Linked DNA regions of Homo sapiens: all the other regions are linked to region 1. The links come from fine-mapping of genetic effects on gene expression. A gene starts in region 1. Each other region holds a variant in brackets. All regions are shown on one strand. Distances are between the middles of the regions.

Region 1 (5,109 bases):
GCCTCAGCCTCCCGAGCAGCTGGGATTACAGGCACCCACCATCATGGCTGGCTAATTTTTTTTTTTTTTTTTTTTTAAGTAGAGCTGGGGTTTCACAATGTTGGCCAGGTTGGTCTCAAACTCCTGACCTCAGGTGATCCCAACTGACAGATAAAACTGTGTGTATATGTCATGTACAACATAATGTTTTGAAGTATACGTACATTGTGAAATGGTTAACTCTAGCTAATTAAAAAATGTTTTACCTCACATAGTTATTTTAGTAATGAGAACACTTAACATCTGCTGTGTTTTTCAAAAACACAATGTTTTCCAAGATTACAATGTCATTAACTATAGCCACCATGCTGTCCAATAGATCTCTTGAATGTATTCCTCCTATTCAACTGTAATTATGTATCCTTTGACCAACATCTCCCCAACCCTCCTTCACCCCTAACCATGCCAGCCCTTGGTAACCACCATTCTATTCTCTACTTCTATGAACACCAAAATTATTTAAAGGCTGTACTTGTCAAGAAATATAAATGTATCATTTCAAGTTCAGATAATGTGTGTATTTAATTCTTATTTACCTGCCGTTTGAAGACAATAAAGCATATAGAACACAAAATTTAAACCTGATCTTACCTTTGTAAGATAATCCACTTTCAAATTGTCGATCATCATAGTTTTCTGGGATAGCTCAATTTTTAGTAACTGAATATTATGAAGTAGTTCTTTTCGTTCAATTAGCTGCCTGGTGATTCTGACTTTGCCCTCTCGCTCTTCTGATGAGGAAATATCATCCGTAGGAACTGTTGTTTCTAAACTAATATCTTCAGATTCCAGAGAACTAGAGATGTTCACTTTTTTTGACTCCTTTGAAATTTTTCGAGACATTTTTATTATTATGGATCAGTTTTCTTCTCTAATTTGATTTTAATATTCTGTAGGTTAAAAAACATTAATTCAAATGTACTATAAAATTAACTACAGAAATCATGGACTGTATTAAAGAGAGACTAAGGATTCCTTAAATAAATATTAGGCAATTTAGTGCATCCCAAATCTAGAACAGATTATTGCAGTTAAGTTAATGCTCAAATCAAACACATTAATTCCTAATATGAAGTCAGCCTTCGAGAAACTTAAAAAAACAGTTCCTGCGGGGAGGAATCTTACTTGGAGGAAACAAAGAAATGTACAAGATGAAGAAAAAAGCCCATTATAATCAAGAATGGCACCACTAAAACCAACACATGCTCAAAGATAACAGAAATCACGTCTGAGTTGGTCAGGGAAACGTTACACAGAGGTAGCACTTAGAATCTTTAAAGATTTGGACAGGCATGGTAAAAAGGAGAAATCATGCAGTTATTAATGATACGTAAGTGGAAGTAAAAAAACAAAGCCAAGTCTTGGAATAGTTACTCCTTTCACCGCCCCCCCAACACAAACACAAACACACACACACACACACACACACACACACACGCCCTTAACGATCAAGACTGGAAGGCCTTAAATGTCAAAATAGGGTTGGATTTTATTCTACAGGCAATGAGGCATCATTGAAGATGTTTTAAATAGGGAAAACGGGGACAAAAACATTTTTTATAGATAGCAGAATGAAAACAACAGGATATAAGAAAAATTCAAGAAATTCTAAATAGAACTTACTTCTAACTCTCTCATAAGAATGTTAGCAACTACCTTGTTTTAATACCTCATGATATAACAAATTATGCTATTAAATATTTCAGTTTTTCTAAACTGAATGATAAGGAAAGGTGTGTGGAGGGGAAACAGCGAGAACTATACTAAGATCGGCCTCCCTCCTTCTTTTTGAAGGGAAATAGGTAAGAAAAAGTGAATTCAAAGACAAATTCTCTCCTCGATTACAAAGGGCCCGAGACGGGGACTGCCTATACACTCGGCGTGAAAATTAAGCCCCAAACTTGGCAGCTCGGGGGATTCCTTGCCCCACGCGGGAAAGAAAGCGATGATAGTCGCAAGTTACCTCGAAAGTGTCAATTACTCCACACTGAAGCCTTGACCAGCAGCCAGTGCAGACACCGAGGGACCAAAGGCGTCTCCGGTCGGAAGCACAAGGTTGCAGGCCCTCAACAAGGGATTTCAAGGCAGGGGACCGTTAGGACCCGTAACCAAGACAACCATCTCCGCACCCGCAAGGAGGACAGAACCAGCACTCCCACAAGCCGCCGGAAGTCAACTCTCCCGGATGTTCCGAGGAGCGGAAAGCAACACACGTTGTGAGGTGGCGTCCAGAAGGAAGCCCCGCCTAGGCCACGGGCGGAAATGGCTCCTCGCCTTGCTTTGCCGCCCCTCCCCACTCTCGCCCAATCCCCGCGGCCGTCAGAGAGCCAACCAATGTTTATCTCGGCATTTTCCCGCGAGAAGTGTTACTAATATCCGGGAATGGAAAGGGAAGAACCTCCGGGGTTAGGCGTATTCTAGATTGACGCCTTTTGCTGGAAGAGCGCTGCTGGGGTTAGGATTCTGCGCGGCGAGGCAAGATGCTCAAGTCCAAGACGTTCTTAAAAAAGACCCGGGCGGGCGGCGTGATGAAGATCGTGCGCGAGCACTACCTGCGAGACGACATCGGCTGCGGTGCGCCCGGGTGCGCAGCGTGTGGAGGGGCGCACGAGGGGCCGGCCCTGGAGCCGCAGCCCCAGGACCCGGCGAGCAGCGTCTGCCCGCAACCGCACTACTTGCTGCCCGACACTAATGTGTTACTGCACCAGGTGCGTGGGCGGGCGAACCGCGGACAGCGCGGCCCCACGGGGACAAGGGGGTATGACAGGGAAACTGAGGCCCAGGGAGGCGGGTCTTTGGCAGTGTCACATACCTAGCGAAAGGGAAACCCCCTCGGGACCGAAGCTTCCTGTTCCCCAGGCCGAGGTTCTTTTCCTTGTGCTTTAAAAAATTTAGTTCTTGGAGTCGTAGTTCAGACACGTTATTTTTCTAACTCCTGGTGTCTCTTCTGCCTTAGATTGTAAGTGCCTGGAGGCCGGGGACCTGGGCTTCTGTGGCCTCCAGCCTGCGACTCCCAGGCAGCTTGTAAGTGCCTAGGAACAAAAAACTATGTGGGCCAACGTATTCCTTTATTAATACCCTTAATTCTACGAAGTCTTGTGATTGGTCTGTTTAAGTGTGCTTTTTTTAATAGATCTGAAGGGTTTAGTGACTATTGTCTCGTTTTCTATAGCCAAATAGCTTCTTGGCTTAACTTATTCAGTGTTTTTAAAACATAAAGTATTTATGCCCAACATAAAACAGGATTTTATGTTTGACAGAGCTATTTACAAATGAATATAGGAAAAATTAACTTTATCTTTCTTTAAGATTGATGTTCTTGAGGACCCTGCCATCAGGAATGTAATTGTGCTACAAACAGTTCTTCAAGAAGTGAGAAATCGCAGTGCCCCCGTATATAAACGCATCCGAGATGTGACTAATAACCAAGAGAAGCATTTCTATACTTTCACTAATGAGCACCATAGGTAGGAGGAATATTACGTTAAATATCAGAAAACCACAGGATTAGCAAAATTCGGGAGAGGGTTCCTGTGAGTAATTTATGACATTGTCAGAAGATAAGTGATAGATTTCATACCTTATTTAATTCTTACATGGCTGTGCAGAAGATAATGCTAAGTGGATCTCTCTAAGGTCACACAGGCATTGATGGGCTCAAGCCTAAAACCAAGGTCTGCTGACTCCTAGACTACAATAGGTACTTTAATTTCCAAAATGTTTTCATTTTGAATTGGTTTTAGCATGAGTTGGACCATAGAATCTTGGAAGATGAGATTTGCTTAAGTTCCTGGAATACCATATTATGTGAACAACTAACAGAGGGTAATAAAATATATGAGTTTGTGAAGTTTCTATTTTGTTTAAAAATAGAAAGTAGATTTATTCTTAATGGTCTTTTTAAAAGTTTAATACTTTGCAGCTGATTACATTGAGCAAGATTAGGTTAAGGAATAGAATTCTTTTTTTTTTTTTTTTTTTTTTTTTGAGATGGAGTCTCACTCTGTCACCCAGGCTGGAGTGCAGTGGTGTGATCTCTGCTCACTGCAACCTCCACCTCCCAAGTTCAAGCGATTCTTCTGCCTCAGCCTCCTGAGTAGCTGGGATTACAGTCACGCACCACTATGCCAGGCTAATTTTTGTATTTTTAGTAGAGACAGGGTTTCACCATGTTGGTCAGGCTGGTCTCGAATTCCTGACCTCGTGATCCACCTGCCTCAGCCTCTCAAAGTGGTGGGATTACAGGCATGAGCTACCGTGCCTGGCCAGGAATATAATTCTTTGTTGTGCTTTTAGATTCAAGACCTTTGAACTCAGTGTGTGGTCTCAAAAATATGATATTGCCTATTACGTTATATTACATAAATAATCTATGATGAGTATGGTACTTTTATTGGATTAGATCAGGGCTTCTCAATCTTGGCATTATAGATATTTTGAACTGAATAATTTTTTTGTGGTGGAAAGGCTGTTTTATACATTGTAGTATGTTTAACAGTGTTCCTAGCCTATTTGGCAGGATCACCACCCCTTACCCCCCCCACCACCACCACCACCACCACCACTCAGTTGTAATGATACAAAATGCCCTGAGGGGTGAATTCACTCAATTGAGAACCATTGGATTAGAGTGTAGACTTCTGGTAATGAAATTCCATCAGATTATGCACATTTTTAAAAACCTTAATATCTCAACTTTCTTGATTCTTATATCTCAAACTTCAATGTTCTTGTAAAGAATACCAGTAAAGCCCTTGTAGGCTTCTTATTGTTAGTACCTCCTTGAAATCCAGAAATAGCAACATCACTTGTTTTTCAGTGCAGAAAGACCCAAGTTTAAAACCAATTCAAAAATTTATGACTGTGTCTTTCACTGATGAGCTTAAAACATTAGCAGCTGGGCGTGGTGGCTTATGTCTGTAATCCTGGCACTTTGGGAGGTTGAGGTGGGCAGATCACTTGAGGCCAGGAGTTCCAGACCAGCTTAGCCAACCTGGAAAATCCCTGTCTCTTAAAAATACAAAAATTAGCTGGTTATGGTGGTACATGCCTCTAGTCCCAGCTACTTGC
Region 2 (5,109 bases), 210 kb before region 1:
TTTTAAGTAGAAGAAACAATTATACTACACACATAAGTTGTGAAAATAAAATAGTAATTAGAATCATGCACATGAATCTTTTGATCATTAATACTCATTTAATATAACTGACAATTACAACATTCTATAGTCTAGTGGTTTCCACGTTTTTCTGCACACTGAAATCACCTGTGGAGCTTCAAATATTGCCAGTGATGACTGTGTCCCAACCCCAGAGACTGTGAGATAATTGATGTGGTGTGGCCTGGGCTTTGGAATTTTTTTTTTTTTTTAGATAGGATCTCACTGTCACCCAGGCTGGAGTGCAGTGGTGTGGTCTCGGCTCACTGCAGCCTCTACCTCCTGGGCTCAAGCCATCCTCCTGCCTCAGTGCCTGAGTAGCTGGGACTACAGGCGCATGCCACCACGCCCAGCTAATTTTTTTGTATTTTGGAATTTTTGAAGATCTCAAGTGATTCTAATAGACAGACAAATTTGGGAACCACTGGCATAGCTACCTTCCACTGTAGATGCTCCACATATATTCGCTGAGTAGACTATTTAAGCATTTAACTTTTTCTCTTCTTCTTTTAAACTGTCGCATTTCCTTTGAATTCTTATATAAAGATGGTAGAGAAAAAGAATCCAATCTTGGCTACTAGTCAGCAGTTAAACAGTAAGTTTAATACAGATTCAGGATTTCTTTAGCTGTATTATCCCTTATCCTTTTACAAATGATAAGTGGGGTTGGCTTCAGTTGCCCTTTGAACTAAGAATTAATTGTGATGAACTTTTTGAAGAGATCAAAAATTTCACCCGTTCTTGCTCCCAAGTGTATTTGTCTTTCATATCCATAGACAAATCTTTAGTACATAACACTAGTGGGTATTTATGATTAATTACTAAATTGATACATCATATACAAGTATATGGAGAGATGACAGGCTAAACTCTTCTTAATCTTTATTTATCAGAACAGAACAGTGGTAGGCTATGTAACAGGTAATTTTTTCCTATTATCTTATTGTATCTTCATGCCAAAACACGAAAGTTATGGTGATAGAACAATGTTCTGCTCTCTTCTACTAATCTGTTTATAGACACCAGCTCTGTGTCACAGCAAGTTCCTACAGGCCTTTCTCTTCTGGCTGTCATTAGTTCTATTTAGAACCATCTAACTTGAGTGAGTATTTTAAAGCAGTGTTGCTGAGTTTAAGCCATATAACCTTAATAGATTTTAGGGTTGCGAGACGTGTCAGAAGAAATGGTGTCAGAATCCTTTCTCCTTTCTGCAGTAGTGGGCCTGGCTTGGCCAATGTACATGAGAATGCATATACTTGCAGACATTGCCAATCTGATATATGATTATCTGGGCCATTTGGGGACTCTTTTTGCTTTCAAGATTATGTTGTTTCATTTATATGCTCCACTATGGTGAAGTATATAATTATTGATTTGATGTCAAATGGGTATGGTGTTATGGTAGATTTCAGCTCCTGTTCTACTTACCAAGATAAGTAGAAGGGAAAGCCTATGAAAAGAAAAACTTTCTATCTGAAAGAACATCTCTTTATTAGCCACAACTTTTCTATCTTTGGCATGAAGATAAAATAAGAGCAAAAATCCCCTCCAAAACAATCTAGCACTATTCTACAGATAAATAAGGTAAAGGGGGGTTTAGTGGTCAGGAGATTAGAAGGGAAATTCACATCTTTGCTTTATCCTAAGATCACCCCAGTTTGGGGTGTTGTCACAGTACCACTTTCGTTAATGTGACTGTACAAAAAATATTAGCAGTTTCTGAAATCCAGGCAAAGAACACTTTAAGATCAGCAAAATTCTGTAAAATTCTTATTAGGATAATACAGCTACAGTGGGTACCCAAATAACATTTAGAACACATTTTCAATTTTATTATGTTTGGCTTATATAATGATCCAACTTATATCGATGGTAAATTTGAACCAAGAAAATTCCACTTCAATTTTTTTTTTTTTAGAGACAGGGTCTTGCTCTGTTGTCCATGCTAGAGTGCTATGGTGTGATCACAGTTCATTCAAACCATCCTACCGCCTCAGCCTCCTGAGTAGCTAGGACTACAGGGGCATTCCCCCACACCCAGCTAATTTTTAAATTTTTGGTAG[A/C]GATGAGGTCTTACTATGTTGCTCAGGCTGGTCTCTCACTCCTGGCCTTAAGTGATTCTCCAGCCTTGGCCTCCCAAAGTGCTGGGATTATAGGCATGAGCCACTGCACCTGGCTAAGCACATGTAGTGGTACTATTTTAGTATAAAGCTATTAGCAAACGACACATCTATTCTTGACATTATTATTGTTTAAACTTAGGCTGCCTAATCTAGTTCAATGAGCTTTAGTTTTATAATTGATAAAATGTAAGCTTCTGTTACCTTTTAGGATTTTTGCCAGTCTGATAAGGGTTTGTGTATGTTTATTTTGCATTCCTTTTACAGTGAAGTTGAGCAGTTTTTTTTTTTTTTTAATATATTGAAGGTTTTTTTTCAGTTGATTGCCTTGGCCCATTTTTCTACTGAGTGGTCATTTTCTTATACATTTCAAGGAGCTCTTTATATGTTAGGGAAATTAGCCCTTTGTCTTTAATATGAGTGGCAATTTTTCCAGTTTACCTCTTACTTGACTTTGTTTATGACCCCCCCCCCCCGCTTTTTTTTTTTTGTTATGAAGAACATTTGATTGTGATGTAGCAGAATATGTCAATCTTTTCTTCTGTGGTCTTCTCCATGTTTTTTTCCTATATTTTCTTAAGTTACTTTTGTGGTTTTTCTTTTCTTTTTTTTTTTGAGATGGAGTCTCGCTCTGTCATCCAGGCTGGAGTGCAGTGGCAAGATCTCGGCTCACTGCAATCTCCGCCTCCCAGGTTCAAGCAATTCTCTGCCTCAGCCTCCAGAGTAGCTAGGATTACAAGCACCCACAACCACGCTCAGCTAATTTTTGTATTTTTAATAGAGACGGGGTTTCACCATCTTGGCCAGGCTGGTCTTGAAGTCCTGACCTCGTGATCCACTCGCCTCGGCCTCCCAAAGTGCTGGGATTACAGGCGTGAGTCACTGTGCCCAGCCTCTTTTCTTTTTCAAACATATAGATCTTTGATTGGTTTAAAGTTTATCCTGGCTTATGGTAAAACATATGAATACAACATCTGTCCCCTCAAGATGGCTCTCCTATAACAACATCATGTACTGAAGAGACCATTTTTTCCCCCACTGATGCCATCTTTATAATGTACTAAACTGCTGTAAGTATATTATTTATTTATGGACTTTAAAACTCTGTTTCTACAGTCTGTCTATTTATGCACCCATGTCGCACTGTTTTAATGTTTTACTCTTTAATGAATGATGTATTTTTCTGGCTGTATTCTTGGAGATAGGCGTGGGATCATGCTGAAGGGAAAACAAAATTAGAAAGAACTTTTTTTTTTTTTTTTTGAGACGGAGTCTCATTCTGTCGCCCAGGTTGGAGTGCAGTGGTGTGATCTCGGCTCACTGCAACCTCTGCCTCCCAGGTTCAAGCAATTCTCTGCTTCAGTCTCCCAAGTAGCTGGGATTACAGGTGCCCACTACCATGCCCGGCTAATTTTTTGTTATTTTTAGTAGAGACGGGGTTTCACCATCTTGGCCAGGCTGGTCTTGAACTCCTGACCTCATGATTCACCCACCTCAGCCTCCCAAAATGCTGGGATTACAGGTGTGAGCCACCGCACCTGTCCGCAAGAACCTCTTTATTATATTAAGTGTTCACAGCCATGAAAGTATTTGAATATGTCTTACACCGACCTTTTTGACATAAATTGTCCTATCCTAGTTGATGCTACTATTACAATGAAATGATCATGATTCATGAGATCCCAATTCACAAACTGACAAAGCAAACAGGAAACAATCCAACATAACAGGCAATAATTAGAAAACATTTTTGTCACTACGAAGAGAAATCCTTTGGTAAGATGAAATCATTTTGAAGCCCTCTGCTTTGCTTCTAACCTGGTTCGGTTCTTATCCTGTGTCTGGCTTCTGGGTATTGGCTTCATCTCGTATTTCAGATTCCGCTCTCATTGTTTGCATTTGAGTTTGGCATCTCATCTCCCTGCCTTTTGATTCTACTTTCCTCTTCTATAACTATCATTTTTCTGATTGGTCAGTGGGTTTATTTGCAGCATTGCCTCATTATTTGTAAATATTGTTTATTGCAGAGAATGTGACTACAGAAAAGGAAACTGTGATGCTCAAAGAAGAATGTTTTAAGTACTAAGTTTGACTGGATTCTTTTTCTTATACTGTATCTACTGCTCAAAAATCATGCCATTGATTTAGGTTCCTATTTGTACTTCAACTTTCCAACAAATATTTTTTTCCCCTCTTTTCAGAGTTTCTGCCCTTTTGTTTTCTCATTGATAGAAACAATGTACGCCTTTTTCCTTATTACCTAATATTATCTAGCTTCTTAATCGTGTTGTTTGCTGAGATTAATTCTGTACTGACTGCTTTTAAGACTGAAATTTCTTTTTATTGTACACTTTGGCAAGTTCCACTATTTCTTCCACTTCCCTCTCTTTCTCTCCCTTCCCCGCCTCCGGCCTCTACCTCCCTTTCTCCCTTTTTTTTTCTTTTTTTTTTGAGACAGGTTCTTGCTCTGTTGCTCAGGCTGTAGTGCGGTGGTGCAAATATGGCTCACCACAGTGCCTTCACTCTGGGGCTCAAGGGATCCTACTGCTTTAGCCTCCTGAGCCGCTGGCACCACATGCACCTACCACTGTCCCCAGTTAACTTTTTAACTTTTTGTAGAGACTGTGTTACCCAGGCTAGTCTTGAACTCCTTCCTCCCTCATTCTGTTTGTTATTTGATGGCATACAATTTATTAATGTTCTGAGAGGGTGCTGGTGCTGTAAAAGAAACATGCTTTCATGGTATTACTGCTCTGTCTTCTAAAATCAAATTTCTGAAAACTCTGATGCCATCCTGATTCTTTTTTTTTTTTTTTTTGAAATGGAGTCTCGCTCTGTCGCCCAGGCTAGAGTGCAATGCCGTGATCTTGGCTCACTGCAAGCTCTGCCTCCTGGGTTCACGCCATTCCCCTGCCTCAGCCTCCCGAGT
Region 3 (5,109 bases), 160 kb before region 1:
AATGCACAAACAGAAAGCCAAATACTCCATATTTTTACTTATAAGTGGGAACTAAACATTGCATACATATGGACATAAAGATGGGAACAACAGACTCTGGGAACTAGCAATGGGGAGAGGGAGAGGGGGCCAAGGGTTGAAAAACTATTGGGTATGATGCTCACTACCTGGGTGACAGTAGCAATTAAACTCCAAACCTTACCATCACATAATATACCCAGAGAAATACAAAAATCAGCCGGGCACTGTAGCAGGAGCCTGTAATTCCAGCTACTCAGGAGGCTGAGGCAGGAGAATCGCTTGAACCAGGGAGGCAGAGGTTGCAGTGAACCGAGATTATGCCACTGCACTCCAGCCTGGGCAAGAGAGTAAGACTCCATCTCAAAAAAACCAACCAACAAAAAACCCAGATAATAAACCTGCCCATGTACCCCTGAATCTAAAATAAAAGTTGAAATTAAAAAACAAGAACATTCACTGTTTATGTTTTGATCATATAAACACTATTCATCAATGAATACTTGTCTTAATTAAAAAAAATAAAACAAAAATGCAGCTTTTCACTTTTCTCCTAAAATGCTTAGTTTGTATGCAATTAAATACACTTCTGCATTTGATAAGAGCAGAAATTATTTAAATTATTATTAAACATTTTGCTATTGTGTTAAAATTGATTTTATTGTTTATTCTGAATACTTCTTTTTCTTCTTTTTTTTTTTTTAGACAGTCTTGCTCTGTCACCTAGGCTAGAGTCCTGCGGTGGTGCAATCTCAGCTCACTACAACCTCTGCCTCCTGGGTTCAACCGATTCTCATGCCTCAGTCTCCCAAGTAGCTGGGATTACAGGTGCCCACAACCACGCCCAGCTAATTTTTGTATTTTCAGTAGAGACAGGGTTTCACCATGTTGGCCAGGCTGGTCTTCAACTCCTGACCTCAGGTGATCACCCCGCCTCAGCCTCCCAAAGTGCTGGGATTACAGGCATTAGCCACCACACCCGGCTTATTCTGAATACTCCTATATAGGCAAAATCATTATTTACTCCAATTCTGGACCTATTATTTCCTTTAAAAATTGCCAGATTTACAAGAAAAATACTTATTTTATTAATATTATGGCCAGCAAGAGAAAAATAAATGAAACTCTAGAACAGAAATAAGATCCTACATTTACCGAGTGATTAACATATGCCAGTTAGTGTGCTAAGTGCTCATCTTAGATTGAACCCTCTCTCATTTTGGAGCAAACATGCAATATAGTATTATTATTTCCACTTACACTTTGGAAAACTGAGGCTTACAAAAAGATAACTTGCCTAAAGTCATATAACCAGTCTGCCTAACTTGAAAGTTCTTGGCTTTTTCCCCTTTTCCCCTAAACAAACAAGGTAGAACCCTGGGGCATGTCAACACTTAAGACATAATCAGAGAAAAAGAAGTCAACAAAGGAGACTGAGGAGTACGAAGGTAACAAAGTGGTGGGAGGAGACAGCAAGTGAAGATTTGGGAAGAGGGGAGATGACAGAAGATGAGGATGAGAAGTAGATTAGAATCAAATTGGCCATCTATGCCACGCTAAAGAATCTGGACATTGTCTTGTAGGCCATGGGCCTTTAAAAATAAGTCATGATTGACAGCACAGAGGACAGTTTTGGATAGGGAACTTTTAAAAAATTATTAATTTTTAAATTGATACATAATTATATGCATAGGGTATATGTGATATTTTGATACATGCATATGTGAAAATCAAATAGGGATATTTAGGACATCAATAACCTTAAACATTTGTCATTTCTTTGTATTAGGAACATTTCAAATCTTCTAGCTATTTTGAAATATACAATAAATTATTGTAAACTACAGTCATCCTATTGTGCAATTAAACACTACAACTCATTCCTTCTATCTAACTTTATGTTTGCATCCATTAACCACCCTCTCTTCATTCCCCATCTTCACCTTCCCAGGTTCTGGTGACTATTATTCTACTATTATTCTAGTAAGGTAAAGACTTTTGATAGGCTGATGAATTAAAGTTCACTTGCTAAATTAAAAAAAAATTCAGGCAATGTAGTATCTCATCTAAGTGTTATTTTTTAAGCCTTGTATTTCTAGTAATGAAATAAATGCCACTGTTCTTTACTAAACGATATTTTTCTTTTTTTGAGACAGAGTCTTGCTCTGTCACCTGGGCTGGAGTGCAGTGACACAATCTTGGCTCACTGCAACCTCTGCCTCCCAGGCTCAAGCAATTCTCTTGCCTCAGACTCCCAAGTAGCTGGGACTATATGTGCACACCACCACACCCGGATGATTTTTGTATTTTTAGTAGAGACAGGGTTTCATCATGTTGGTCAGGCAGGTCTCGAACTCCTGGCCTCAAGTTATCTGCCTGCCTTGACCTCCCAAAGTGCTGGGATTACAGGTGTGACCCACTGTGCCCAGCCTACTAAAGGATTTTTAATATCAACAAACAGACAAACATTTTGAAAGGCAAAGGAACCCTATAAATCATACTGTTTTTAATCTCTTCTATGAAAATAGCATACATCTTATAATTGCTGTTGATAAAGCCCATGCATGAAAAAATTGGTCTTGGCTGTTCATATTATTACTTCAATTGAGTTTTGAGTATGGCTAGTCCTTCATAGGCTGAGTACAATTGTCATTTAAGTATCTAAAAAGATCACAAGGGATTCGGCATTGAAACAGAAGAAAAACACAGAAACAGAGTTGTGCAATATAGGACAAAAATCACTGCCTAAAGTCTAAAAGAAAGTATGTCTAAAATGAAAAAAATTAAAGTAATAGCAAAGCATTGTATCACAGTTTAATCAGCAGCATCCTCCACTCTTCCTCACAGTGGTACACAAAACAGTGGGTTTTTTTTTTTTTTTTTT[A/TA]CATCATTGAAGTCTTAGAAATATGGTTGACCTTGAAATTTAATCAGATCTAGATTGTTTAGGGCCACATGGTAGGTATGTGAGTCTCCTCCTTTATAATGTTGAGGTGTGGTCCTGTGAGTTGTATGTGCCACAGACTCTTTCCAAGAGACTGAGCTCACTGGGGATGCTGGAAGAACACTCCTAGCAGTTGTTAGAGGCAGAAGAATGGGTCAGGCAACTCAAGGGGCAGAGATAAATGTTTTATTACTTCAAGTACTTACTTTATACCAATAAAGCTCATTTCATATTGCTAATCCATGACTAGTGGTATTTGTGTCCCCTTTGCATGACATATTTTCAGATTTTTTTCATTTTCTGTATGTTTAAACAGAAACACAATCCCATCCTCTCTGTATATGCTGGGTACATGCACACACACAAATATATTAAAACCCAAACAGAGAAACAGAAATTATTCTGCAATTTGTTTTTTGAAAAATCATCAATACAGTATAAATTTCTTTCAAAGTTAATACATATAGGTCTACTTTATTTTACCTATGCACCTTGACGCCTCTTTCAAATCTAGCAATGCCTTCTAGGTACAAAATTCCAGGTAGCTAAACCTTGCCATGTGGTTACTGATGACTGTGCATGTCCCACTTTCTAGACAAGCTTCCTGAAATTAAGTCAGTTGTAAAAGATAAATCTCTGCGTGCTTACAGTAGAAAATAAGGCCTTTGTGAATAAGGTTGGTTATGTTAGAAGTGAAAAACCATGTCTATTTTGTCATCAGTTGTTGAATATAGTGGGAAATTGATAAATATTTACTGAATAACTAGAAGGAGAGCATATATCAAGGTTTGAGGCAGCTAAGAAAGACCAATTCTTAGCTGCCTTACTGTTGGCAGTAATGTGGCACACTTTATGATTCTGGATTTTCTACTGTTTAACAAACTCCACACTGACACTTGACTCTTAACTAAACTTGGCAGTTTCTTGAGAATTAGTGGGTATACACAAATACACAAAAAAGAATAACTTGTTTTCTCTGTTATACTGGACCAACTAATAAAACAACGGTCGAAAGACATTGGACATCATGCAATGAAGGAGATCCCTGACACACAGGAAACAAACAAGGTAAACTCTATGACTGCCTTAGTTTATTGACTAGAGACAGCTTTCAAGCTGTGGTGCTGGGAAGGAGAATTAAGGCAGAGCCTGTCAAATTCCCTGAGTTAAGGAGCTGTTGATAGAAGTAATAACCAAGGTGGTTACAGTTCATATGGGAGACTACTGAAGAAAAGGGAGCTGCAAAGAGACAGAACTCTGACAATTTACAGATAGTGCCCCTTAAGTATTTACCTGGCACAGAACAGTGCATATGTATAAAGACAGGAGACAGAACTACAGACAAGATTGGTAGGAGCAATCTCTGAAGTGAACATGGGCAAGGCATAGTGCTTATTTCCATCAGCCAAAGTAGAAAACCTTACAATTTACAGGACATGGAATACTCAAAGAGTTTGGTTGTAGTAATGGGGGAGAAATTGGCCTTACGATAAACCCTTCTCTGCCTAAAAAAGCTTAAAAGCAAGATTTGGAAGAATCAAACTGTTTCCAAGAAACCTAACTATGTCCCAGAACAAAGCTAACAAAAACATATAGGAATACAAAATATATAGCATCAAGGTAAAATTTACAAGGTCTGGCATCCAGTAAATAATTACTACATATGCAAAGAAGCTGAACAATGTGATATATAATGAGAAAATTCAAATTTATTGAAGGCAGCCATGAAATGACAAAATAATAGAATTAGTAGGCAAGAATATAAAAAAGTTATTGAAATTATATTTCACATATTCCAGAAAATAAAGTTTGAGAATGTTAAGGAGAGACCTAAAAGACACAAAGAAGATCCAATTTGAACTTCTAGAAATGAAAACTACAATATCTGAGATAAAAACTGGATTGAACTGAAAGCAGATTATACAGTGGTGAAAAAAAGATTAGTGAACTGGAAGACACAGTAAAAGAAGCTATTCAAAAGAAAAGCAGAAAAAAGACTGAAAAAAACTGAAGAGAACATCATTTGTTCTGTTGTAGAATAACTTTAAGCAACCTAATATATATCTCATTGAAGTCCTCAAAGGAAGGTGAGAGGATTGAAGTATTTAAAAATTTAAGAAATTTATAAATTTGATAAACTCACATATGTA
Region 4 (5,109 bases), 45 kb before region 1:
TGGAACAGAACAGAGGCCTCAGAAATAACACCACACATCTACAACCATCTGATCTTTGACAAACCTGACACAAACAAGCAATGGGGAAAAGATTCCCTATTTAATAAATGTTGTTTGGAAAACTAGGTAGCCATATGCAGAAAACTGAAACTGGACCCCTTCCTTATACCTTATACAAAAATCAACTCAAGATGAATCAAAGACTTAAATGTAAGACCTAGGATCATAAAAATCCTACAAGAAAACCTGGGCAATATCATTCAGGATGTAGGCATGGGCAAAGACTTCATGTCTAAAACACCAAAAGCAATGGCAGCAAAAGCCAAAATTGACAAATGGAATCTAATTAAACTAAAGAGCTTCTGCACAGCAAAAGAAACTATCATTAGGGTGGATAGGCAAACTCCAGAACAGGAGAAAATTTTTGCAATCTATCCATCTGACAAAGGGCTAATATCCAGAATCTACAAAGAACTTAAACAAATTTACAAGAAAAAACCAAACAACCCCATCAAAAAGTGGGCAAAGGATATAGACACTTCTCAAAAGAAGACATTTATGCAGCCAACAGATATATGAACAAATGCTCATCATCACTGGTCATTAAAGAAATGCAAATCAAAACCACAATGAGATACCATCTCACGCCAGTTAGACTGGCAATCATTAAAAAGTCAGGAAACAACAAGCTGGAGAGGATGTGGAGAAATAGGAATGCTTTTACAGTGTTGGTGGGAGTGTAAATTAGTTCAACCATTGTGGAAGACAGTGTGGCAATTCCTCAAGGATCTAGAACTAGAAATACCATTTGACCCAGCAATCCCATTACTGGGTATATATCCAAAGGATTATAAATCATTCTAACATAAAAGACACATGCACACGTATGTTTACTGCAGCACTGTTCACAATAGCAAAGACTTGGAACCGACCCAAATGTCCTTCAATAACAGACTGGATAGAGAAAATGTGGCACATATGTACCATGGAATATATATGCTATGCAGCCATTAAAAAGGATGAGTTCATGTCCTTTGCAGGGACATGGATGAAGCTGGAAACCATCATTCTCAGCAAACTATCACAAGAACAGAAAACCAAACACCGTATGTTCTCACTCATAAGCGGGAGTTGAACAATGAGAACACGTGGACACAGGGAGGGGAACATCACACACCGGCGCCTGTCGGGGAGTGGGGGGCTAGGGGAGGGATAACATTAGGAGAAATATCTAATGTAGGTGACGGGTTGATGGGTGCAGCAAACCACCATGGCATGTGTATACCTATGTAACAAAACTGCATATTCTGCACATGTACCCCAGAACGTAAAGTATAATTTATAAAAAAAAAAAAAAAAAAGCAAACATATCTCACTTCATTTTTTAAACCCTTCTGCATTATTTGCAACCCAAATTATCCTAATGGATACATCAGCTCATTACTGTATTCAAGAAACGTACCTAAAACCAAATGACAAAGTTTTAAAATAAAGGCACATGGGAAAATTACACCACTTAAATGTATGCAAACAGAAAGCAGAAATGTCAAAATCAAAAAATAAAATAAAATAAAATAAAATAAGGTATTATCTTAGTATTATCATATAGAATAGACCTTAAAAAAATCACTAAATCTTCCCCAAAGCCAAGAGTTCCCTCAAAGAAAATCTGTTAATTGGTATCTATTTACGTGGGAAATAATGCAAATCTTGCCTGGATGCTACATATTTTTCATACATCTCTTCTCTAGCCTTTTTGCTTTCTTCCAGTTGAGCTTGAAGTCTTTCAAGGCGATCCTCTTCATGAGCACAGCGAACACTAAGCTCCATGTTTTGGCGATTAAGATATTCTTTATCCTTTTGCAGTAAAGTAACAGTTTGCTCTAAGGTGACTACCTACATACATGTAGAAACAAAAAGTATCCACAGTGATGCCATCTTACTTTTCAAGCTTGACTGTATTAATTTCTTTCCTTCATGTTTTCATTCACCACATGAAAATTTTCCTTTTAAAAAGGGCTAATTCTTAGCATGCAACTTTTTTAAAATCTAAAAATAGCTACTAAAAGTCTCTTTTTGGGGCTGGGCATGGTTGCTCACACCTGTAATCCCAGCACTTTGGGAGGCCAAGGCAGGTGGATCATTTGAGGTCAGGAGTTTGCGACCAGCCTGGCCAACATGGTGAAACCCTGTTTCTACTAAAAATGTAAAAATTAGTAGGGCATGGTGGCACACGCCTGTAATCCCAGCTATTCAGGAGGCTGAGGCAGGAGAATCGTTTGAACCTGGGAGGCGGAAGTTGCAGTGAGCCAAGATCGCACCACTGCACTATAGCCTGGTCAACAGGGAAAGACTCCTGTCTCAAAAAAAAAAAAAAAAAAAAAAAA[AAAT/T]TTATCTTTTTGGGAGGAACTACATAACAAAAAAAATGTCTCTCCTTCAAATCTACTCTGGGCTATTTTTTTCACTAATACTATGCTATATAATATAAGTGACTCTAATTATAAGCTTACCTCTTTTGATAATTCACTTCGTTCTTTTGTTTGAATCATGTGAGAGGCTTCAAGTATTTCATGTTTTCTCCTAAGCTCAATTACTTCCTGTTCAAGTGCATCACGTTCACTGTTAAAATAAAATTCAAAGAGACATGTAAATTTTACATCCCCTTGTACAGCGTACACTTTAAAAGGGTTGACTATGTATTAGGACGCTGAATAGAGACACTAGCAATGGGGCTTCAGTGTAATTCCATGAACTATAAAGTACCTACTTTTCAGATTTAGAAGGGACTCTGTTTCAGACCTTGTTCAAATACATACATATCAATTTATTACCTTTAAGGAATATACAAACTACATAAGCCAGTACAGTAAATAATAAAACTTACTAACATACATTTGGTATTTTTTCATTAGTCATCTTCAATCTTATCTTGAGGTTAAAACTTTTAAAGAATGTATACATGGCTCTAGGCTTTCAGTTCAGTTAAGGTAAAAAAAAAAATACAACTTATCATTTAGATTGCATAGTAGATACGTAGGCAGGCATTCTTGTGACTATTTCATTCACAAATTGTTTATGATTACCCAGATTTTAATTTCCATTTTAAGACAAGTTCCCCAAAAAAGTTATACCAAGAATTGGACTAAAACCTACAACACACATTTTTTAAAATGAGCAGAGAAACAGATTTACTAACTCTTAACTACTTCCCTGCAGTCAGAAGCAGTGCCTTTGCACTTTATTTCACTGACCCACCTGGTATTTCCACAGAGAGGGCTGTTAGGAATTGTTTTCCTTTGCATCAGTTTTTCAAAAACGTTTAGAAAGCCTTTTTTCTTCTAGTTAACAAAATATTATGTTTATTGAAGAAAAACTGAGCAAAGCACAAAATAACAATCACCTACAAACCCAATAAGTAAAGATGACTATCAGTATTACTATTCTGATACATATTACTATACGTATTTTGTGCTTTTTTATTTTTAGAATGTTTAGATTATTTTTAATTAAAAAAATTTTTAAATTTTATTTTGTGCTTTCACATGCAATTTTTTAAAAAATCTTTTTTTTAAATTTTTTTTTTTTTTTATGAGATGGGGGTCTTGCTATGTCACCCAGACTGGACTTGAACTACTGCACTCAAGTGATCCTCCAGCCTCAGCCTGCCAGAGAGTTAGGACTACAGGTGCATGCCACCATGTGCCTAATTTAATTTTTTTTTTTTTTTTGTAAAGACGGTCTTGCTATATTGCCCTGGCTAGTCTTAAAGTCCTGGGCTCAAGTGATCCTCCTGCCTGTGCTTCTGAAAGCACTAGGATTACAGACATGACACGCTGTAACCAGCTTGGTTCTTTTTAATGCTTTTACTTACCAATCATTAACACTGTTGTATTTGTTTTGTAATATTAAATAAATATTACTTTGTCATATTTATTCAAACCCTCTCTCTTGTTAATATATGTGAATATATGCAGGTGTCTTAACGGTATATGTGGAGAATGGGTTCCAGACCCACCCCCACAACCTGAATATGCAAATCTGTACATGCTGAAGTCCTGCAGTTGTTGCAGATCCCACCAAACAGTCAGTCCTCTGTATACTCAGGTTTCACATCCCGTGAAAATTGTATTTTCGATTGGTGTTAGGTTGATAAAAACCTGAATATAAGTGGACCCCATGTTGGTCAAGGGTCATGTATCTATATGTGTATACACACCTACACACACATACTCATACATGTGCATTTGTTTCCTCAACTGAGACATTAGGTCCCTTTATCCCTAAATAATTAGTGTGAATTTACTAAGATTAAAGATAGTCTCTTATATAATCACAGTATAATTATCATATTCAGGAGACTTAGCCCTAATATAATATTATCTAACATACAATCCATTTTCAAATTTTGTCAACTGTCTCCCAAAACACCCTTTGTGAATTTTTTTTTCCCTGAGCCAAGGCTCTATTACCATAATGGTAATCCAAGGATCTATTATCATCATATTATAATCTATTACCATGCATCTAGATGTCATGGGGTTTTAGTCTCCTTTAACCTTGAAGATTTCTTAGTTTTCCTTGTGTTTTATGACTTTTTATAGAGCAGAGGCTAGCTGCATCATAGAATGCTCCTCAATTTTCACTTGTCTGAAGTTTCTTCATTATTAGATTCAGGTTAGGCACTTGGGCAGGAATACTACAGAAATGATTCTCAGAAATGATTCTCTGATACAGAAACGCATTCTCAGTATGTTATGTGAAGATGTACTGAGGTATGTGACGTCAGTTTATCCCATTATTGGTGATAGTAACTTTGATCACTAGGTTAAGGTAGCATCTGCCAGAGTTTAACTATAAAGGTATCCTTTTGCCCTTTAAAATTAGTAAGTAATTGTGAAGAGATGCTTTGTGTAAATATCCTATTCCCTAACATACTTATACTTCATGGTTTTATATTCCAATGATGATTCTGAATCAATATTATTATGCGGCTACAAAATGGTCATTCTTACATGCATATACATTTATTGCTTGGATTTCAACCATAAAGATCCTCTTTCCCAAAAAGGATATATTTATTACCACTGAACTGTACACTTAAAAATGGTA
Region 5 (5,109 bases), 86 kb after region 1:
TGCAATTCTTTGTATCTTTCATGATTCTTTATTCAACAAATATTTACTCAGCCTCTGCTATATGCAGACAGTATATTAGTTGCTGAAAATACAAATGGATAAGACAGTCTTCTCATCCTCAAGGAGTTCATGGAGACAATACATGCAGTACAGGAATAAGCACTATGATAGAAGAAAGTACAGATCATTCCAGGAACACAGAGAGAAAGGCACCCAACAGGGCCTTCATACATAAGGATGGCAGCTAGCTTTTCCACTTCTTGGAATTGTCAGCAGCATATTTTACCTAGTACATGCTGGGGAAAAAAAAGGGTTGATAAAATGAATCAATAATCCGAGCTAGGAAGTTTAGTCAAATCCCAGCTCTGAAATCTATGTATATACCCCAGAATAGCCCATGTAAGACCTGGCTGCCCTATATTAGAAATGGCTTTTAGTAGGCTCCAGTTCTACATATTTAAAATGATACATGCAGCAAGTGTGTTCATATATTCATTGTCTGGAATAGTACCACAGACTAGACAGATGAACAGCACATGTTCCCTGTCCTCAAGATGTTCACAATCAAGTGAGACAGACTCACCGAATTACAACATAGAACTTGGCAGGATGGTGTAATCATTGAACAGGAACTGGAGTTATAGTTAGCAAGCCATGGGAGTTCATTCCACCAGGAACCAAGCAAGTTTTTTGCAAGGGAATTGCCTTTGAGCTGGTATTTAAATGGTTAAGAAAAATACTTCCACAAGCAAAAACCAGACAGTAAGGCAGCCCTTGAAAAAGCTTGGGCAAATGGATAGTCTTTAAAAATAAACAACTCACCTCCCCCCAACTAATTAATTAAGAGAGTTCCCTCTACCTTTTTCTGTATTTAGTTTCTTTGGCAACATGAGGAATGCTTAAGGTGATCCACAGCTGGTCTACCTGCAGACCAAATCAGAAATAGGGAGGGAATGCAACGTTTTGTTTTCTTTTCTTGAGATTTCCAATAAGCCTTTCCTAAATAGTTTAAAAGACAATAGAATTAAAACATATAAATTATGAATCCTCATGGATTTCATTTTTCCACTAGATGGCAGAAAAAGCACTTGTAATGGAAATTACATTGTCATCTATTTAATCAATTCTGCAGACTTTTTTAAATAAAGGGAGGTATATTTCATTCAGTTTGAACAGTACAATATGATTATAGTACAACTGATTATTCCATAACTAATTTAATCATATTAAGCTTAAAATTAAAAAGAAAACTTTAAATTAGTTTGTGTTTATATAAGTACATCTATGTCCAAACATCTCAATTAAGATATAAATGATGGAGTTTCATTGGCTTTAGAATACTACTATACTCTCTTTTAATGCAGACCTTTACATAAAAGGCAGCATTCAATATACTTAAAATTAATACAGAGTAATTTTTTATGTTACACATGGATTTAATTGGGGGTACAAATGAAGTATACTTAATTATGATATAGTGCAGGTAGGGATAATAATATAAGTTTAAAAAGTGATAAAATCACGGCTGTAAACTCAAAATGTTCTCTTAAAAAAAAAAGATAAAAGCTGTGAGGACTAGGTAAATATAGCACAAAAGTTAAATACAGTATATAGCTTTTCTTAGCATGCCAGTAATTCTAATGTGCTTTTTTCCATTGTATTTGTGTGCCATTGTCATTTATCTACAGTCATTCTTCAGAGACATTTGTGATTACACTACTTTACTAGGCACTTGAGTAGAGCTGCATAGACAGTTGTACCCTTACTCTAGTTCATTACAATCAAAGAGAAAATTATTTTATGCACCTACAAGGAGCCAAATGGTGATAAGTGAGTTACACAAAGGAAAATGTGTTAGGAAACAGTAACATAATTTAATAATGTAATATCAAATTGTAAAATAAAAACAGTTCAAAGAAACTAAGTCTTTTGTCTTTATTTCAGCTATTGCTTTTGCTACTGTTTATCTTAGAACTGGCTTTCCAAAAAAATAAAGAGTGAACCATCAGCAAAAAAGGAGGAAAAATAGAGAATGGAAAATGGGAAGTGATGAAATGGAGTAAAGTCCCATCATTCATTCAGTCCACAAACGTTTGTTGAATGTTCGCTCCAGGTCAGGAATGGTGGTGGGAACAGAGACATGGCTTCTTCTCTTACAATGAAAGTACAACAGAGAGAGTCGGGGAGGGGTGAGCAAACAGAAAGCAGTGAAAGAATTGATGAAATTTCATGACAGTTATCATGGTGGTGGTGTTACCCGAGCTCACTTCTCTCCCACCTTTGCATAACTGCCTCCTCACCAACAAAACAAAAAAGTAAAACTCTGGAGTGTGCTAGGAATGCCCACAATCCTCAGGGATCTAGGGAGGGTCTTGTGTTCTGAGAAGGGTGGATGTAAAGCACATCCGTAGTGACTTCCAAGTGGCTTGCTATCTTAGAGAGTAAGTTATACACAGTCCTGGGGTCTCTGGCTTAGAAAACTCTGTGCTGTGGATGGCAAAGATACTTGATCTTATTTTGAGTCAAGGTGAGTCAATAACTTTCTGGGAATAAGCTGCTCACATTTAAGCTGTGCAGTAAATTAGTTTCCAGGACAATGTAATTTCTGAGTAAATTATCTTCCTTGGCATATTGAGTGGAAGGCTATTTTTCATGCCTGTTTCTTTGTAAAGGCAACTGTGGGTTAAAAACAAATATAAATGTTAGAATGAAAGAGAATCTGATCTGGGGTACTTTGTATGAAGAAACATTACATTGGATTTGCAGAAGCATTATTTCCTTGCAGAACCAAATTTTAGAAAGTCCTATTGGTCTTACTTCTGGCACCTCAGGTCCTACTGGATGCTAAATGTGGGACCCCAGTCAGTCTGTGCTCCAGTTTCTTAAATGACATATCATCAAGGATTAGACTTTCAGCTTTTTACT[G/A]TAAAGAATAGAGGTTGAAGCAGCTCACTATTCAACTAAAACAAACTGAGAAGAACTCTGGTGCAAAGTCTCAAGGCCGACGCCCTCACCCCAATGTTTTAGGTCTTCAGCTCTCCTTTTGCTCTCCAAATAAAGAAATAAAAATCTGGGCTTTTTGCATAAATTCTTTCTTGTGTTCTGCCCATCTCAATGGTGTCACTGCAAGTGTCTTTCTATATCTATAACCCGAGCCATAGAGTAACTTCTTTAGGACTGTACGAATGGCTCTCTCGTGCTGACCCAGCTCTGAGGAGACTCTGCCCCCAGCACACCGAGTGGTTTTTGTCTTTCTGCTGAAACCTGGGAAGAATGTGTAGCAGGGCTCCTCCGAGCACAGGACCCTGTGGATCTACACTCAGCACATCTTTAATGGGCTCAGAGCAGTGACAGCTGTGACGAATACCACGGCAATTTCCCAGATAAGATTGTATCCGAGTAGGGGCTACATTTCCTTCAGAGCTGCAGAGGCCATTATTATTCTTTGGAGAGGAATTCTGAGGAGGAAATAGCTGATTTAAATGCCTGCTGTCAGTTGCCAAAGAAATTGTTACAAAATACGGCTATAATGATGTGGAAAACTGCCCATTGCTTTGGATCCCACTTTTTTTTGTGTGTTCCCCTCCATTCATCATCTAAGATTTCCCTCTTAGCCAACCAGGTGCATGAAAACTGGTGCGCTAGACAAGCCTTCTAACTTGGAGTCTCAGTTTGGGGTTCTGTCGTGTTTTTTTGTTTTTGTTTTTGTTTTTTTTATGGTTAGCCAGTCATTTCTCGTGACCTCTTAAACACTTGTGTGGTCTTCTGAGAAACTGTGTTTAGCTCAGAAATACTAACCCAGCTTGCCTGGGTTAAATTTCACTTATTCAACAAGTACTTGTTGAGCGCCCACACATGAGAGGGCAGCATAAGGTAGTGGTTTGGAGCCAGGTTTCTGGAGTCGAACTGCCTAGATAATAGCCCTGGCTCCACCAGGATGACTAGTTGTGTGATTTTGTTGTGTGATGTTAATATGAATAAAAATAATAATGGCTCACAGTAGGTGTTCATTAATACGTTCACTACATCTGTAAATAAGAACATTATTACCATCAAGAAATTTAGGCCAGATGCAGTGGCTCATGCCTGTAATCTTAGCACTTTGGGAGGCTGAGGCAGGCGGATCACTTGAGGCCAGGAATTCGAGACCAGCCTGGCCAACATGGTGAAACCCTGTCTTTACTAAAAATACAAAAATTAGCCAACTGTGGTGGCACGTGCCTATAACCCCAGCTACTTGGGAGGCTGAGGCATGAGAATTGCTTGAACCCAGGAGGTGGAGGCTGCAGTGAGCTGAGATAACCCCACTGCACTCCAGCCTGGGTGACAGAGGAAGACACTGTTTCCAAAAAAAAAAAAAAAAGAAAATAAAAAGAAAAGGAAAAAAAAGAAAGGTATCATCTAAGGTCTAAGACAGGACATGTACAAGAATAATATAAAACAAGATAACATTCTGTGTGGGGTCTCCATTTCCCCTCCACAGTGCCCTAGTGGAGGTTCTCTATGAGGGCTGTGCCCCTGCAGCAGGCTTCTGCTTGGGCACCTAGCCTTTTTCATACATCTTCTGAAATGTACATGGAGGCTGCCAAGCCTCATTCAGTCTTGCACTGTATGCCTACAGACTTAACATCACATGGAAGCCGTCAAGGCGAAGAGCTCACACCCTCTGAAGCAGCAGCCTGAGCTGTATCCGGGAACTTTGAGCCACAAATCGAGCCAAGGGGTCAGGATGCAGGGAGCAATTTCCCAAGGCTGCGCAGGGCAGTGAGGCCCTGGGTCTGGCCCACAAAACCATTCTTTCCTCCTAGACCTCAGGGCCTGTGATGGGAGGGGCTGCCACTTAAATCTCCAAAATGCCTTCCAGACATTTTCCCCATTCTCTTGGCTATTAGCAGTTGGCTCTCTTTTAGTTATGCAGATTTCTGTAGCAAGTACTTGCTTCACAGCCAGCTTGAATTCCTCTCCCCAGAAAGCTTTTTCTTTATCTGCCATGTGACCAGGCTGCAAATTTTCTAAGCTTTTATGCTCTGCTTTCTGTTTAACTATAAATTCCAACTTTAAGTCATTTCTTTGCTCCCACATCTGAGTGTAGGTTATTAGAAGGAGCCG

Direction of the effects. Alleles are on the strand shown, and positions count from the first base shown. SD is a standard deviation of normalised expression in the study named. Not every link is listed here.
In carriers of allele AAAT in region 4, the expression in neural progenitor cells of the gene that starts at base 2,219 in region 1 tends to be higher than with T alone (moderate effect, 0.66 SD a copy in Aygun 2021).

Evidence for each region. PIP is the estimated chance that this variant, and not a neighbour inherited with it, causes the effect. A credible set is the group of variants that fine-mapping cannot tell apart.
Region 2: its variant is the best candidate, but not a certain one, in a credible set for the expression of PIBF1 in whole blood (TOPMed, PIP 0.51).
Region 3: its variant is the best candidate, but not a certain one, in a credible set for the expression of PIBF1 in whole blood (INTERVAL, PIP 0.57).
Region 4: its variant is the best candidate, but not a certain one, in a credible set for the expression of PIBF1 in neural progenitor cells (Aygun 2021, PIP 0.54).
Region 5: its variant is the best candidate, but not a certain one, in a credible set for the expression of PIBF1 in whole blood (INTERVAL, PIP 0.83).

What each region holds. Positions count from the first base shown.
Region 1 is chr13:72,779,243-72,784,351 of GRCh38, reverse strand. It overlaps PIBF1 (progesterone immunomodulatory binding factor 1), which reads right to left and starts at 2,219. Exons shown (of 18, transcript NM_006346.4): 1 at 2,003-2,219; 2 at 631-929. The coding sequence starts at 882. DIS3 (DIS3 exosome endoribonuclease and 3''-5'' exoribonuclease) reads left to right here and starts at 2,452. Exons shown (of 21, transcript NM_014953.5): 1 at 2,452-2,747; 2 at 3,349-3,506. The coding sequence starts at 2,520. RefSeq lists enhancers at 2,319-2,428, 2,346-3,260 and a silencer at 2,709-2,758.
Region 2 is chr13:72,993,635-72,998,743 of GRCh38, reverse strand. The region is part of intron 16 of PIBF1 (progesterone immunomodulatory binding factor 1); the gene reads right to left. Among named protein-coding and RNA genes, the nearest start is that of KLF5, 63 kb to the left of the region's middle. The variant A/C (reference allele first, on the strand shown) is at 2,124.
Region 3 is chr13:72,940,059-72,945,167 of GRCh38, reverse strand. The region is part of intron 14 of PIBF1 (progesterone immunomodulatory binding factor 1); the gene reads right to left. Among named protein-coding and RNA genes, the nearest start is that of KLF5, 120 kb to the left of the region's middle. The variant A/TA (reference allele first, on the strand shown) is at 2,903.
Region 4 is chr13:72,824,520-72,829,628 of GRCh38, reverse strand. It overlaps PIBF1 (progesterone immunomodulatory binding factor 1), which reads right to left. Exons shown (of 18, transcript NM_006346.4): 7 at 2,511-2,619; 8 at 1,715-1,896. Among named protein-coding and RNA genes, the nearest start is that of PIBF1, 45 kb to the right of the region's middle. The variant AAAT/T (reference allele first, on the strand shown) is at 2,388.
Region 5 is chr13:72,692,764-72,697,872 of GRCh38, reverse strand. No RefSeq gene overlaps it. Among named protein-coding and RNA genes, the nearest start is that of MZT1, 32 kb to the left of the region's middle. The variant G/A (reference allele first, on the strand shown) is at 2,926.